2 separate regions of the Homo sapiens genome follow, and region 1 is linked to region 2. The links come from fine-mapping of genetic effects on gene expression. A gene starts in region 2. The other region holds a variant in brackets. All regions are shown on one strand. Distances are between the middles of the regions. Region 1 overlaps ZZZ3 (zinc finger ZZ-type containing 3). Region 2 holds the start of USP33 (ubiquitin specific peptidase 33).

Region 1 (5,527 bases), 110 kb after region 2:
TGTTTTTAAATAAAAGTACAGATAAAACAAGGATATGTGTTGTTAGGCTGTTGAAAATGTTTTAGTCAGAGGCTAGCAGGAACTTCACTCTGAATTTCTCTTGTATTGAGTATTTGATAATTCAGTGCTCATGGCAACTTTATGAGAATCAACTATATATGATCTGTTATGGCACTTAGGGATTTTGAAATACTGAAACTAGCTTGGGAACTGCTTTACCTGTCCTGTAGATTCTTAGAGGTGACGGAGAGTCCAGCTTAGAGGTTGGTTAATATGCTGGTAAAAATTTTTGTGCCCTCTGAAGACAGTACAAATTCAAGAATTTAGAGCAATGGTGCATATCTGATAAGATTCAAGGTCTCAATATTTTGATATTCAGACCTTGACTTTGATATCAAAAGATATTTCAGGGAGGACTCTGTCCCATGAGAAATGGTAAAATATCCTAACTCATTGTGAATCTTTACCTTGATCCGTCTCCTTTAGATTATTTTATTTGCTTTTAAGACTTTTCCTAGTCTTTTTGATTGTTGTGTTGACAGAAACCATTGAGAATTCTTAAGACAGATGGAGCATGGCTTTTAGAGAGGATTAAGTAGTCATTTATTTATTACCTGTCACTGGCCTTAAAAAAAATTGACATTAAATAACATCCTTAAGGATAAGTATCACTAAATAAAATTAATGGAAATTTTGACTTTTTTCCTAAATTTAACTGACAAATTTAAAAAATATTTAAAGCAAGCCAAGAATTAAAATTTTTTGTAAGCATTTTCAAAATGCAGTATACAGTTAGGCAGCTATAAAATATATTGTTGTGAGGAAAACTGTAAGTTGATGAAAGGGAAACATTTGTAAAAATTAAATATATAGATGGATCTTTACATCAGGCATTTCACCTAGGCCTTGCTGAATTATTTATGCTTCATTTATGAATGTCCATTGAAGATGAATGGCTGTCCAGAGCTGAGATTATGTCTTAATGATAAGTACATAGTACACTGTGTGTGCTAAACTAATGTATCTTGAAATGAATCAGTCTTGCTAGTCCAATAATCATTTTCAAGTTAGTCTGTTCCAGGATTTAACAAGCTGGTTTGGACCTAAGAATGATATATGGTGCCTTCTCATCTCATTTCTTCTTCTAAGTCATAGATCAACAAAGGGATTTTTTGGAACTGAAAAGTCCAGGGTGTTTGTCTGGTTCAGGCTGAGCTAAGTCAGTACGTTTAAATGATGTCATATTAGTGCTCTGCTTCTGTTGCTCTACTGCTGACAAATTCAGCTTTATTTGTTGCTACCTGAAGGAGAGTTTTATCTATCTGCCTTGTCTGTTTGTCTGTCTCATTAGCTATTGTCTTAGTCTGTTTGGGCAGCTGTAACAGAAAACCATAGACTGGGTAGCAAATAAACAACAGCCATTTATTTCTCATGGTTCTGAAGGTTGAAAAGTCCAAGGGCAGATTAAGTGTTGGCAACGGCCCAGTTCCTGGTTTATAAGTGGCCATCTTCTCACTGTGTCTTCACATGGCTGAAGGGGCTTAAACTTGACTAAACCCAATCAAAGTAAAGGTAATTCTAGAAGAAAATTAATTTTGATCTTAAAAACCCTTTACTTGATCACATTATATAAATATTAACTCTTTTATTGGCTTATCATATGCTATGGTTTGAATGTCCCATCCAAAACTCATGTTGAAACTTAATCCCCAGTGTGGCACTATTGAGAGGTGGGACCTTTAAGACGTGATTGGATCATGAAGTCTCTGCCCTCATGAATGGATTAATGGGTTAATTGGTTAATGGATTAATGGGTTATCATGGGAGGGGAACTGGTGGCTTTATAAGAAGAAGAGAGACCTGAGCTAGCACATTAGCACGCTCAGCCTTCTCACCTTGTGATGCTCTGTGCTACCTCAAATCTCTTCAGAGAATCCTCATGAGCAAGAAGGCTCTCACCAGAGACAATTCCTTGACTTTGGACTTCTCAGCCCCTGTAACAGTAAGAAATAAATTTCTTGGCTCGGTGTGGTGGCTTATACCTGTAATCCCAGCACTTTGGGAGGCAAAGGTGGGAGGATTGCTTGAGTACAGGAGTTCGAGACCAGCTTGGGCAACATAGAACTTGTCTCTATTTAAAAAGAAAGAAAGGAAGAAATTTATTTTCCACAAATTACCCAATTTCTGGTATTCTGTTATAAGCATAGAAAAAGGAGTAAGCTTCATAGAGATGGAAAAGATATCCATCTATCTATGGAGAGGCGTGGGTACCAAACATAAGGCAATATGTAAGGCCTGATGTCAAAAGGGCCAGTTATGTTTATTTCCTATTTTTTCTTTTCGGTTTTGTTTTTTCAGTCTGTTAATATAGAGTGAATTGCATTGAACCAACCTTATGTACATGTAAGCCAGTCTTACATTTTGGGGATAAACATCATTTGGTCATGGTGTATTATTTTAAAAATATTATTATATTTGGTTTGTTAAAAAGTTGTTTGGAGTTTTACATCTATGTTTATGAGGAATATAGGTTTGTAGTTCAAATTTCTTGTAATTTTTTTGTCTGGTTTTGAAATCAGACTAATCCTGGCCTCATGGAATGAGTTGGGAAATGTTCCTCTTCAGTTTTCTAGAAGAGTTTGGGTAGAATTAGGATTATTTTTTTCCTTAAATGTATATCAAGTGGCATAGTTAAAATTTACCAGTGAACTCACCTTGGCCTGGAATTTATTTTTGCCAAGTTTTTAACTATAACTTCACTTTTTTTTTTTTTTTTTTTTTTTGAGATGGAGTCTCGCTGTTGCCCAGGCTGGAGTGCAGTGGCGCCATCTCAGCTCACTGCAATCTCCGCCTCCTGGGTTCACGCCATTCCCCTGCCTCAGCCTCCCAAGTAGCTGGGACTACAGGCGCCTGCTACCACACCTGGCTAATTTTTTGTATTTTTAGTAGAGACGGGGTTTCACCGTGTTAGCCAGGATGGTCTTGACCTCCTGACCTCTTGATCCACCCGCCTTGGCCTCCCAAAGTGCTGGGATTACAGGCGTGAGCCACCGTGCCTGGCCTAGCTTCACTTTCTTTAAGGATATTTAAGAAATAATTTCTTGAGTGAGTTTTGGGGAATTTGCAGTTTTTCATGGAATGTGTCCATTTCATCTAAATAGTTGGGTTTATTGACATGAAGTTATTTGTAATATTATCTTTTTTAATTTTTTTTTGAGACAGAGTTTCAATCTTGTTCCCCAGGCTGGAGTGCAATGGCACGATCTAGGCTCACCGCAACCTCCGCCTCCCAGGTTCAAGTGATTCTCCTGCCT[C/T]AGCCTCCCGAGTAGCTGGGATTACAGGCATGTGCCACTGCGCCTGGCTAATTTTGTATTTTTAGTAGATACAGGATTTCTCCATGTCGGTCAGGCTGGTCTTGAACTCCCGACCTCAGGTGATCCACCCACCTCAGCCTCACAAAGTGTTGGGATTACAGGCGTGAGCCATCGCGCCTGGCCGATTCTCTTATCTTTTAAAAACATTGAGATATACACTTAACCATAAAAATCACCCTTTTAAATTATACAATTTGGTGATTTTTAGTATATTTACAAAGTAGGACAACCATCAGTAGTACCTAATTGCAGAATACTTGCATCACCCTAAAAAGAAACCCCATACCTATAGCACTCACTTTCTACCATTTCCTCCCTCCCACAGTCTCTGCAATCACTTATCTCCTTTTTGTCTCTATGGATTTGCCTATTCTGGATTCTTCCTGCCTGCCTGCCTGCCTTTTTTTTCTTTCAGAATCTTGCCCTTTTGCCCAGGCTGGAGTGCAGTGGCACAATCGTGGCTCACTGCAGCCTCAAACTCCCAGGCTCAAGCAGTCCTCTTGCCTCAATCTTCTGAGTAGCTGGAACTACAGGCATGTGCAACTATACCTGGCTAATTTTTTAATTTTTTGTAGAAACAAGGTCTTACCATGTTGCCCAAGATGGTCTCGAACTCCTGCAGTTCAAGTGATCCTCCTGTCTGTCTAGGCCCCTCAAAGTGCTGGGATTACAGGTGTGAACCACTGCACCTGGCCTATTCAGGGTATTTTATATAAATGGGAATTTTACAATATGTAACCATTTGTGACTGACCTCTTTCAGTTAGCATAATGTTTTTAAGGTTCATCCATGTTACAGCATTTGTCAATACCTCACTGTTTTTTATGGCTTAAGTGTATTTCATTGTGTTGATATGATATTCCTTGTTTTGTTTATTCACTCAGCAGTTGATGGACCTTTAAGTTGCTTCCACTTTATAACTATTATGAATAATGCTGCTATGAACATTTTTGTACATGTTTTTGTGTGGACATATGTTTTCCTTTATTTTTGGGTGTATACCTAAGAATGGAATTTCTGGGTCATATGGTAATTGTATGTCTAACTTGTTGAGGAACTGCCAAACTATTTTCCAAAGCAGCTGCACCATTTTGCATTCCTACCAGCAATGTATGAGGGTGCAAATAACTCTACATCTTTGCCAACACATGTTTTTGTTGTCTTTTTTATTATAGCAATACTAGTGGGTGTGAAGTATCTCACTGTGGTTTTGATTTGCATATCCCTGAGGGCTAATGATATTGAGCATTTTTTCATGTGCTTATTGGCTATTTGTATATTTTATTTGCAGAAATATCTGTTTAAGTCTTTTACCCATTTTTAGATTAGGTTTATCTTTTTATTAAGTTGTAAGGGTTTTTATAGATAGAGAGATAATTACAAATATTTTCTCCCATTCTATGGGTTATCTTTTTATTCTCTTGAGTTCTTGGAAGCACAAAAGGTTTTAATTTTGATGATCCCCATTTATCTGTATTTTTCTTTGGTTGCTTGTGCTTTTTGAATTTTTATGTTTTAATTGTGGCAGAATATATGTAACGTAAAAGTTACCATTTTAACCTTTTTTTTTTTTTTTTGGAGATGGAGTTTTGCTCTTGTCGCCCAGACTGGAGTGCAGTGGTGTAATCTTGGCTCACTGCAGTCTCTGCCTCCCAGGTTCAAGTGATTCTCCTGCCTCAGCCCCAGAGTAGCTGGGACTACAGATGCACGCCACCACGCCCAGCTAATTTTTTCTATTTTTAGTAGAGACGGGGTTTCACCATGTTGGCCAAGATGTTCTCTGTCTCCTGACCTTGTGATCTGCCTGCCTTGGCCTCCCAAAGTGCTGGAATTATAGGCCTGAGCCACCGTGCCCAGCCCCATTTTAACCATTTTTAAAGGTTACAGTTTAGTGGCATTAAATATAGTCTCACATTGTGTGTAACCATCACTGTGGTCCATCTCCAGAATGTTTTTCATTTTGCATAACTGTAACTCTGTACTCATTAAGCAATGACGTGACATTTCCCCCTCCCTTAGTCCCTGGCAACCACCATTCTGTTTTTTGTTTTTATTAATTTGACAATTTTAGATAAACTCACGTAGTAATTGGAATCACACATTTGTCCTTGTTGGTTATGCTTTTAGCATCATATGTAATAAACTTGTTTAAT
Region 2 (5,000 bases):
GGACTGTGGGATGAAAGGATAAACACCCAAGGGTGGGAGGCAGGAATTCACGGAAGTTAAAAGTGGGAGAGGTATTACATTATATTCTATCAGAGTGAGTTTGTTTTGTGAGAACTTGTCCACTGCAAGGACTTCACTTGGTGTCCACCTGAGAAGTACTTGCCTACTATTATCTACGCACTAGTCTCAAACTCCCGATCTCAGGTGATCTGCCCTGCTGGGCCTCCCAAAGTGCTGGGATTACAGGCATGAGCCACCGCACCTGGTGATCTTGAACAGCCTTGTCAGTTGTCTTCCTTGCATTGACACTGCCCTAGAACTCCTCCAGGACAGGTAAGCCCAGAGAGAACCTTGGTTACTAAGCAGGATGGTGGTGGGACTTGGAGGCTGAATTGAATTTGCTAGGACACTGTAAGAACAGAATACCCCTGATACATTTTCAATAGAAGAATTTCTGGGGAAGTGACTTTTGTCTATTTTTCTATTTGGTCGCCTGTTTTTTTAAAAATTGATTTCTGGAAATACATATGGAGTTGAGCCCCTTTTCAATTATATGTATTTCAAATAAATTCTATTTGCTGGCCTAACTTTTCTTCTCTCTCTGTCTCTCTTCTTTTTTTTTCTTCTGTAGATCTCCTCTGTGGACAGCTTTTTTTTTTTTTTTTTTTTTTTTTGAGACAGGGTCCTCCTCTGTTGCCCAGGCTGGAGTTCAGTGGCTCTATCTTGGCTCACTGCAACCTCTGCCTCCTGGGTTCAAGTAATTCTCCTGCCTCAGCCTCCTGAGTGGCTGGGATTACAGGCACGCGCCACCACACCTGGCTAATTTTTGTATTTTTCGTAGAGATGGGGGTTTCACCATGTTGGTCAGGCTGGTCTTGAACTCCTGACCTCAGGTAATCCACCCGCCTTGGCCTCCCAAAATGCTGGGATTACAGGTGTGAGGCTCTGTGCCCGGCTGGAGACAACTTTTCATCTCCTAACGGCATCTTTTTTTTTTTTTCCCAGAGAATATCTCACTTTGTCACCCAGGCTGAAGTGCAGTGGCACAATCATGGCTCACTGCAACCTCAAACTCCTGGTCTCAAGTGATCCTCCACTCTTAGCCTCTTGAGTAGCTGGGACTACAGGTGCCTGTCACCATGCCTGGCGAATTTTTGTATTTTTAGTAGAAATGGGGTTTCGCCATGTTGCCCAGGCTAGTCTCGAACTCAAGTGATTCACCCGCCTCGGCCTCCCAAAGTGCTGGGATTACAGGCATGAACCATGGCGCCTGCCTGTGAAACTTCTATTCTGTGAAATTTCTATTCTCCTCAGTGAACCGAGGATAGGCAATCATTTGTGGTGCAAATTGAGGCCTGAGTGTCAATCCCTACCTAGAATTTTGTATCATGGTTAATTTATTTCATTTTTACCATAAAAATAAGTAGAAGCTTTTATATTTTCTACCTATTCCAATGGAGACTGAGCATCTTGCATGATACTTTGGTACATGCTCCCATTTTGGAGACCAAAAAGTCAGATGTCATGAGACAGATTGAAACTGGCAATTTTAACAATTTTTTATTAATATAACCTTTTTTATTCATAGATTTGAACCTCAATCGAGTGCATTTTAACAGTTACATAATTAGAAGGCAGGACTCCTTCCATGCTCCAGGCATTAAGCAGATACTAAGGTTTCAATAAATATTTGATTTGATCCTCTTGATTTTAGCCTAAGGAGAAAATGGTGAGATAAATTTCTTCTTTGCATAGGTGGAAAAGGGAAACATAATTGCTTTCAGAGAATCTAGGTCCTAAGAAGTTGGGGGAAGAAAGATGAAAGGAGGAAATACAATGTTGAATTGGGATAAGTTAAGTCTAATATTTCTTTGCTCAAGTTTGGAAACCTGAGGCCCTTCAGTGGCCAGCCTTAATGCAGTTTTTGTAATGCATCGAGACAAGACCTTATAATGGTCGTAGTGTGTGACTGTGAAAGAGAAGGAGAAAACATGTGAAAAACGAAAAAAAAAAAGCTCACAGCCTCAAACTGCTGCACATACCCTGTACAGTTAGTTTGCAGTCAGAGTAGGGAGCCGGCCTGGGTCCCCGCACCTGGGCCTGGCTCCCGTGGCCCCGCCCCTGGGGCGGGCTCCCATCGAGGCTCCGCCCCCACCTCCCCTATCGCCGGAGACGCCTGCGGCGGCCCCGGAGACACCGGAAGGAGCCGCGGCTGCTGCGGGAAGTGGCCAGTTCAGGAGGCGGACCCCCCGAGGGCAGCGCTGCGGGGCCGTTTTCCGGCCCTCCTGACGCGACACTGCCCCTCTCCGAGAGCTGAGAAGGAAAAGAGGAGCTTGCGGAGGTGCGGCTGCAGGCCGTTGTTGGTCGAGCTGGCGGGTCCCGCGGGCCAGGCCGTGGAGGTGAGCGCGGCGCTGCTGGGAGGGGCGCGGGGCCCAAGGGCGTTTCGCTCGCGTCCGGGGTCCGGTCTCTGTTCTCGCTTCCGCGCGCTGGGGTTGCGGCCGCTGCAGCAGCCTCTTTTTCTTGGTCCTGGGTGGCGGCGGGTTCGCGGGCGGGAAGAAGGCCTTGGCCCCTCGGTGCTCTGCGTTGCAGAGATAATCTAGTGGTCGCCCTGTCAACGGTCGGTGGAGGATGGGAACCGGTCGTTGATTTGAGGAAGGGTCCTCAGGGGTTCTTCCCTGGAAGCGGGAGGTGCAGGTGAGCCCGAGAAGCGGGGGCTCTGCTCCCTTCCTCGGTCTCCCCACTCAGGCTTGCCAGTCCCTCTCAGTGGGTGACTGAAAGCCCTGCAGCGCGCCGGCTCCTGGGTTCTGGTTTCGCTTTTCGGCGCTGTTGAGGGGGCCGGCCCCGTTGTTTGTTGTTGTGAACGGAAAAACCGAGGTGTCATCGTCCCTGGAATTTTTCTTCGACCAATGTTTGATCTTGACTGAGAGGTTACCCCTTACCTTCTGTCCATCTGCAGCCTTTGTTTGGATGAAAGATCCATAGTGTGTGGTTTCCCAGACCTTTACTTATATTTCTCGTATACAAAACGCTCTTCATTTGAATATTTACAGGGTTTTACGTTGAGCTCTTGGACGATGAGATTTTCCTGGGTGTTTTGCACTCAAGTACCGTTGGAGTTTACATTCTCATAGAATCAGTATTAGGCCTGGAAAATTGAGCCAGAGGGTGAAATTCTGGCAGGAGCATAGACTTAAATTGAAGGTGAATTTTACCGTAACGATCTCTAGGCCTTTTGCTTAATAACTATGTGGATGTAGAGAATTTTTAAGTTTAATCAGATTATTTTTCCTTTAAGAAAAACGTGTTACAAAAAGTAACAAGGCCGTCCTAGTTCCGTTTTTCCTACTGTCTTATTTGGAAAGGTCTGACCAAGTCACATTATCGTCATAGGCTATTTGATTTGAGCATAATACAAATATTGTTAGTGAATTCATACTATTATAAATAAGAGAGAAAATAGGAATCTTAAAGACAATGCTAGTTTTATGAAAAAATAATAGAAATAGTTACACAATGCTAGGAGCTTTGTATTATTTCATTACTTTGGCAGGATTGAAAGAAAGGTCAGGGCTGGGCACGGTGGCTCACGCCTGTAATCCCAGCACTCTGGGAGGCCGACGATCACGAGGTCAGGAGATCGAGACCATCCTGGGTAATACGGTGAAACCCCGTCTGTACTAAAAATTACAAAAAATTAGCCGGGCATGGTGGCAGGTGCCTGTAGTCCCAGCTACTTGGGAGGCTGAGGCAGGAGAATGGCGTGAATCCGGGAGGCAGAGCTTGCAATGAGCCGAGATCATGCCACTGCACTCCAGCCTGGGCAGCAGAGCGAGACTCTGTCTCAAAAAAAAAAAAAAAAAAAAAAAGGACAGTACAAAAAATATTATTGGAATAAAATATTTGACCTGATATGTGCAAGAGGGATAGTCTACTTAAGATTGCTTCCTATTTATGATCTGGTTTATGGCCAGTTTCACTTTTTTTCTGTCTTTTCTGAACTTTTTATAACTTAACAGTAAGCAAGTCTTTTTATATAACTGCAGTTTAATGACATTAGATTGTAGTAAATAGGTGATTTTAAATATTTGAAATTCAGAATTGAGATGATAATTCTTACATTTATGTAGTAGTATTAGAATTTTCTGTGACCTTTCACTTACACAGTCTTACTTGATCCTCATGCCAGTCCTCTGAGCTCCGAATGCCAAGAAATAAAGTCTTTCCCCATGACAGAAACATTTCAAGATTGTGTAAGGATCAGAATTTCGTAAAGCCTGAAATAATGTTGCCAAAGCAGCTTTTGATACAGATTGGGAATTCAGATAGATTAAGATTGGAGCACTGTGAACTATAACATATGACAAGACTGTGGACTCTTCACAAGAAAATGAAGTACATAAAATGCTGAAAGATTTTTGGTGAGAAATGTGAAATGTAACCATTTCTAAAAAGGAAGGGAATAAGTAACAGCTCTATTTAGTGTAGTTTTTAAACTTTAAAAGTGTACATGTGTCTGCAGGAACATTTTGATAAGTGGGAAAACTCCAAAGAGTGTGAGATGAGTACAGTTGCTTTTAACTATCTATAAAAAGGCACATGAATTATGTGCTATATTGTATACTGAGAACTAGTCTTTAAGAAACAATATGTATATCAAAATAAATCATGCTGTCAAATGTTCAGAAGGTTAAGTTAGGTCAATATTTTGAGTCTACCAGGACAAGGCCCTTTGGAAAACAAAAAGAATGAAACGTGGTTTCTGCCTTCAAAGAACTTGTAGTCAAGTGAGGCAATTTTTTACACAACAGTAAATGCCTTATGAGTTTTTATAAAAGTTCCTTAGGAATTTAGGTGAGGTAGACATTACTTGTGATTGGGGCTTGGTGAAGGTAGTATTTGAGATGAGTGAGCTTTGAAAGGTAAATATTGGAGGATATTTGTAATGTGAACAGATTAATGAGCTCCTTGAAGGGTACAACTTACATTTGAGAAAACATCGG

What was found. PIP is the estimated chance that this variant, and not a neighbour inherited with it, causes the effect.
Region 1: its variant is the best candidate, but not a certain one, in a credible set for the expression of USP33 in blood mononuclear cells (TOPMed, PIP 0.75).

The regions. Positions count from the first base shown.
Region 1 is chr1:77,651,442-77,656,968 of GRCh38, reverse strand. All of the region lies in intron 1 of ZZZ3 (zinc finger ZZ-type containing 3), which reads left to right. Among named protein-coding and RNA genes, the nearest start is that of ZZZ3, 28 kb to the left of the region's middle. The variant C/T (reference allele first, on the strand shown) is at 3,315.
Region 2 is chr1:77,757,042-77,762,041 of GRCh38, reverse strand. USP33 (ubiquitin specific peptidase 33) reads left to right here and starts at 2,190. Exons shown (of 24, transcript NM_201624.3): 1 at 2,190-2,399. RefSeq lists a silencer at 2,001-2,280.